Regions from separate parts of the Homo sapiens genome. Here region 1 is linked to region 2. The links come from fine-mapping of genetic effects on gene expression. A gene starts in region 2. The other region holds a variant in brackets. All regions are shown on one strand. Distances are from middle to middle.

Region 1 (2,919 bases), 21 kb after region 2:
GTAGCCTTTCTTTCAGTGAACCTGTAGACTAGTCCAGTAATACTTATTAAAATTAGTTGTTAGAGGCTGGGCATGGTGGTTCAAGCCTGTAATCTCAGCACTGTGGGAGGCCAAGGCGGACAGATCACTCAAAGTCAGAAGTTCGAGACCAGCTTGGCCAACATGGCAAAACCCTGTCTCTACTAAAAATACAAAAATTAGTTGGGTGTGGTGGCACATGCCTGTAATCCCAGCCACTCGGGAGGTGAAGGCACAAGAATTGGTTGAACCTGGGAAGCAGAGGTTGCAGTGAGCTGAGATTGCACTGCTGCACTCCAGCATAGGCGTCAGAATAAGACTCTGTCTTGGAAAGAAGAAAAAAAATTGTTAGCCTAAAACCAACTCTCTCTAAATTTAAAAGAGTGATTATTTATCTTAGTATTTATAGAAGTATGAGATTATCAGAAGGTGCGATGCACAATGCTCATTATTTTATCCTAGTACAAGACACGTATAACATCTAACAGTAAAGAAGATGGAATCTTTCTATAAAAACAATTCTGTTATTAATAGTTGACTGACTTCAGTAACTTTGAGGAGTAGAATGAAACTTATTAGGCAAGATCTTTCCACATACACTACATTGTATTGTTCAAAATTCATAGAAATTACTTGCAATATATTGATTTAAGCCTTATGTAGTGACTGTTGCTATATTTGAAGTAGCATTTTTAGTTTGCTGTTTTTCCTCACTGCTTAATCCTACAAAAACCAGCCATCTGCCTAAAAAATAAAAGAGCAAAAATGAATCAGTGCAACCGGTATACGAAAAATAATAATTATTAATAAAACTGTAAAGGGATCACTAGTGTCATCTTTTATATATGTCACAATGATGTTAGACTTTTTGCCTCAGGCTTACTTATTCAGTTTCCATAACATCCTTCAAAAATCTCCTTGTTGACAACTTGACAAACATTTCTCTGTTGGCTTTCAAGTTTTAAGTATAGCAATCAGAATCATCATAGAAATTAATATTTCTATGAATTCTGTAAGAAAAAATATTAAACACCAAAATCAGTGACCAAAATTTTTAAGTTGTAGAATTATCTCTGAACTTAACTTTATTCCCTATATTTCATTCCTATGATAGGTGACAAGCCAAGACCTTCAGTTTTAATAAGTTCCACTTTTATTTATATTTTAAAATAATATATTGCCTTTGAATAATGCCTATCTCCTTAAAATCTTTTGGCACATTTCTTCCAGGGACAGAGATGGCTGTTTATTTCATAAAGGAGACATTGAGCACAGAGAAGCTGTAATGAAGACA[C/T]GATTGAGATATGAGGGCAAACCAGTTTCAATAAGTCACTTTTATGGAAAACTATTCAGATATAGGAAGAATCAAGTCATCCTGTCAGTTAACTTAGTGTATCTGAATTTTAATGGATTTGCTGTGGGAATATTTTTCTTTGAGAGGGAAGAGAGTGCTTGGTAGGATTCCAGTCTATGTTGGTGGTTCTCAAACATGAGCATGCGTGAGACTCACTGGCAGGCTTGTTAAAACACACTGCTGGACCCCACCCCCAGAGTTTCTGATTCAGTAGGTCTGGGGTAGACAGGAGAATTTGCATTTCTAACAAGTTCTCAGATGATGATACTGCTGGTTCATAGACCACAGCTTGGGAAGTAGTTTAGGTAATCTTCAGTGCTGAAAATAACTAATGTACTGAAAGCTTGCTGTGGGTTCAGTACTTTCATAGGAGTTTGCAATTTACTGTCTCAAAAACTCTGGAATAGATTTGGACCTCATTTTACAACAAAGAGTTTGAAGCTATGAGAGGTTAAGTTGCATTACCTGTCACATATCTAACAGCAAATAAAATGGGGAAGCCGTGAGTAGAACCTGGGCAGCCTGTTTCCCAGTCCCAGGCACTCAGCCATTTTATTGTGGCTAGCTGTTGCTTTAAGAGGCTAAAATTATACATTTGTAATTCTGAAATAAGTACCCAAGAAAATGTTCTGTATTTATGTTTTTAGACAAAATCCTGATCAGTGGTGAATAAGGGGAAAAAAAGGTAGACAAAATATTGTTTTAAAATACTTAACCACATAGACTATAGTAGTAATGTTGAGATAATAAGATACTTATGGAGAAAAAATGACAAATTCCTTCCATCTGCTCTTTTCAGATAAGTAGAACGTCAGCCAACTGGAGTTCCACTCTTGTCGAGGGAATGTTTTCAGGACTCAGAGACCCTGAAAGTGAGGCCAAAGGACTGGAAGTTCTGGTGGTCAGATAACTCATTCAGACTGGATAAAAGCCAGAGTGTAAATGTGAAAACCCTGAATTGTAGTCAATGGCTAAATATTGAGCCACATGCAAGGCAACTGGGGTAGGTAATGAGGAAACCAAAAAATGCCACTGCTGTTTCCAACGAGTACAACAAGATGGTAATAACCAATATTCATTGAGCTCTTCACATGGCAGGCAGTATTCTGAGTCCTTCACAGTCACTTAACCCAATCATCACAACCACCATACAAGGGAAATATGGAAATTCCATGTCTTTGTTGCAGGATAAGTTACTAAGACAGTGATTTCTGAAATATTTTATGCATACAATGAACAGTAAATGGTTTGAGTAAAAACCCTTCTTTGATTTCGTACTCTAATGACATCAAGACTTGAACCACAGGCACATGTAGAAGTTACCAAATTAGATTTTTTCTCTCCCAAATAATAGTATGAGATGAGTTCCTTATACTTATTTCTTAAGTATTCATTATACTTATTTTAATATATTAGAAGTGGTGCCTTAACACATTTTAATTTTTTTCCCACTCTAAGGTTGCTTACTTTTAAAATTACAAGGTCCAGAGGAATTACAAAAGATAAAGCCACCGTTTCATCAAATCTGAAAGCATTGTCAAAGTAAA
Region 2 (2,919 bases):
TGCCCAAAGTCTGCATCCTTGTAAAGTAGTGTTCTGAATGTGAGCGATCATATTCATGAAGTGCCTGGCACATAGTAAGCACTCAATAAAGAGGGATGTAATTTTTATGAACTGTGCACTGAACGTTTATTATAAGCTCATTTAGTTTGTAACAAACACAAAAGGCCAAACCTAGAACTTATTGGTAATTCTTATAGAAAGGACACACCTATGCCCAATACTTACTCACTTTCTTTTTTTTTTAGAGTCTCGCTCTGTGCCCCAAGCTGGAGTGCAGTGGTGCAATCTCAGCTCACTGCAACATCCATCCACCTCCTGGGTTCAAGTGATTCTCCTGCCTCCGCCTCCCGAGTAGCTGGGATTACAGGTGCCCGCCACCACGCCCAGCTAATTTTCTGTATTTTTGGTAGAGATGGGGTTTCACCATGTCAGCCAGGCTGGTCTCGAACTTCTGACCTCAGGAGTTCCAGGCCTCCCAAGGTGCTGGGATTACAGGCGTAAACCACCGCGCTTGGTCTGCCCAATACTTTCAACATTGCTCTGGATCTTACTGTAAAATTCTTGGAAACTGCTGTGATACTAAGATAACCAGATATTTACAACTGATACAAAGTACTACTGCAATAGTTATTTATGGATCCCGCACAATGCTGGGGGCAGGGTGGTAGGTACAGAGAAACAAACGTCACTGTAACTATCAAGTTACAAAATCCCTTGAGTAGAAAAACAATGACTTCCTTAAGATTTATTTTACTTTTTACTGTATTTAAGTTTACACTACTGTTTCTTCCTTACCAGGGGAGAATTTTATGATTTTTATGTTGGCCCATTTTCTTTTTCCGGAAAGTCTAAACTAGCATTTAGCTCGTCCTGATTAGAGTCAGGCACCGCCAAGGCATGGGTTGGCATCTTCCAGATCCCGCTCCCCCAACCGCGGCCACAGCAGATCTGGAGGACCGGGAGAGGACGCAAGGAGGAAAAGCCCTGCTCTGCGAGCTGACAGCCGGACTCTGCCCACATTGCCAATGGAACCACGTCTTCAAGCCGGAAACTCAGCTGGACCTCTCGCAGCGCTCTCTGCGAGGGGGCACAGGGGTTATTTTCTCCGATGTTGTCCACACCCAGAAAAGCTTGTCTCTCGGGGCTACTGTGCTGAGCCCCGACTGGTCAGGTTAGGCCACCGGGGTTAGCTCTGCAACTCTTGCTTCACGGTTAACAGCCCGGAGAGCTTTCTTAAAAAATACCGACGCCCACTGCCACCTGGGACAACGTAATCAGGCTCCCTAGAAAAGGGGCTCAGGCCTGGGTACTTTTTAAGGTTCTCTTGTGAACCAGGACCAAGGGTCTTGGGAGGGTGCCGCGGAGACCACGTGGGCATGGAGGCCCCGCCCCCGTTTCCCGCCCCGCGCGCCCCTCCCCCGGTTCCCCGCCCCCCCCAACCCCGCCCCCGCCCCGCCCCACCCCTGCGCGTCCCGCCCCTCCCGTGCGCCGCTGACGCGCCGTGCTCCGGCGCAGGCGCACAGGGGACGGTTGCTGGCCCAGGTGAGCGGGCGCGCTGGTCCAGGTGAGCGGGCGCGTCCCCGCGACGGCGCTGCCTGCCCGAGGCGGTTCACGTAAAGACAGCGAGATCCTGAGGGCCAGCCGGGAAGGAGGCGTGGATATGGAGCTGGCTGCTGCCAAGTCCGGGGCCCGCGCCGCTGCCTAGCGCGTCCTGGGGACTCTGTGGGGACGCGCCCCGCGCCGCGGCTCGGGGACCCGTAGAGCCCGGCGCTGCGCGCATGGCCCTGCTCTCGCGCCCCGCGCTCACCCTCCTGCTCCTCCTCATGGCCGCTGTTGTCAGGTGCCAGGAGCAGGCCCAGACCACCGACTGGAGAGCCACCCTGAAGACCATCCGGAACGGCGTTCATAAGATAGACACGTACCTGAACGCCGCCTTGGACCTCCTGGGAGGCGAGGACGGTCTCTGCCAGTATAAATGCAGTGACGGTGAGGGGGCACCCGGGCCCAGCGAGGGCTCGTGCTTTCGGGGGATTGGGGTGACGGAGATCCTGGAGGTGTGAGTGACAGATGCAAGGCAGACCTTGACGGTGTCCTTCGGCTGTGGAAAAACTTAACCACTGCTAGAATCTTGCCGTTCTAGTGATTGAGCAAGCTGGGTACAAGTTCGCACCACTATTGTTAGAATGTGAGAGGTCACATTCTAACGGAGAGGTGTACCCCCCGTCCCATTTGCATTGCTTCTGAATTACCTTTTCCCCCCCTCAATTGCACCAAGTTGCCGAAGAACTTACTGACGTAGGAATCATGGGAATAGAGTGGAACAGACTGGTTTTAGCTCATTTTTGCTTCTGTAAATTGGATGAACATGCGAAGCAAACTGAGAATTTAAAAACCATGCCGTATTAACTTTCTCTATAATTGATATTAAATGGTTTTTTTTCTGCAAACCCATAGACAATAACTTGCGACCTTTGTACAGACTTTTGGTGTACTCGAGTGTTGAGAAAGGGTTCCGATAACTCTTCTTTCCTTAGATATCAGTGACCCGCCTCCTCCTCATTGTTGGTTAACGTTAATACAGTTATCTTCATTTACTCTTTTAATATTTTTTGAACTTTCTCTTTGAACCTGAGAATTTGTTTGGTGGCGGTATGAGTACTAATCAACTCAGTATTTCAGGCAGAGATAGTTCTTTTGTAGCACATTTTTGAGTGCTTAAATATTTTAATAGGTCAGAAAAATATTGGACTTTTGTTTGGAAATTGAAAATGTTAAGAGAGCAGTTGGGAGATCATGTTTCCAATAAGATTAGCCAAGGTTAGAGTCTCATTATGCTGGCAGCGGAAAATAATCGGGGATCCAGTGACTTCATTGTTGGAACCTGATTGTATAGGTGAACTTAAAAGGAACTGGTATCAT

What was found. PIP is the estimated chance that this variant, and not a neighbour inherited with it, causes the effect.
Region 1: its variant is the best candidate, but not a certain one, in a credible set for the expression of PLA2G12A in whole blood (TOPMed, PIP 0.52).

Annotation. Positions count from the first base shown.
Region 1 is chr4:109,707,911-109,710,829 of GRCh38, reverse strand. PLA2G12A (phospholipase A2 group XIIA) reads left to right here. Exons shown (of 4, transcript NM_030821.5): 4 at 1-841. It also overlaps a transcript of CASP6 not described here. Among named protein-coding and RNA genes, the nearest start is that of CASP6, 5.9 kb to the right of the region's middle. The variant C/T (reference allele first, on the strand shown) is at 1,313.
Region 2 is chr4:109,728,669-109,731,587 of GRCh38, reverse strand. PLA2G12A (phospholipase A2 group XIIA) reads left to right here and starts at 1,518. Exons shown (of 4, transcript NM_030821.5): 1 at 1,518-1,986. The coding sequence starts at 1,779. It also overlaps a transcript of CFI not described here. RefSeq lists enhancers at 524-1,400, 2,060-2,129 and a silencer at 1,390-1,729.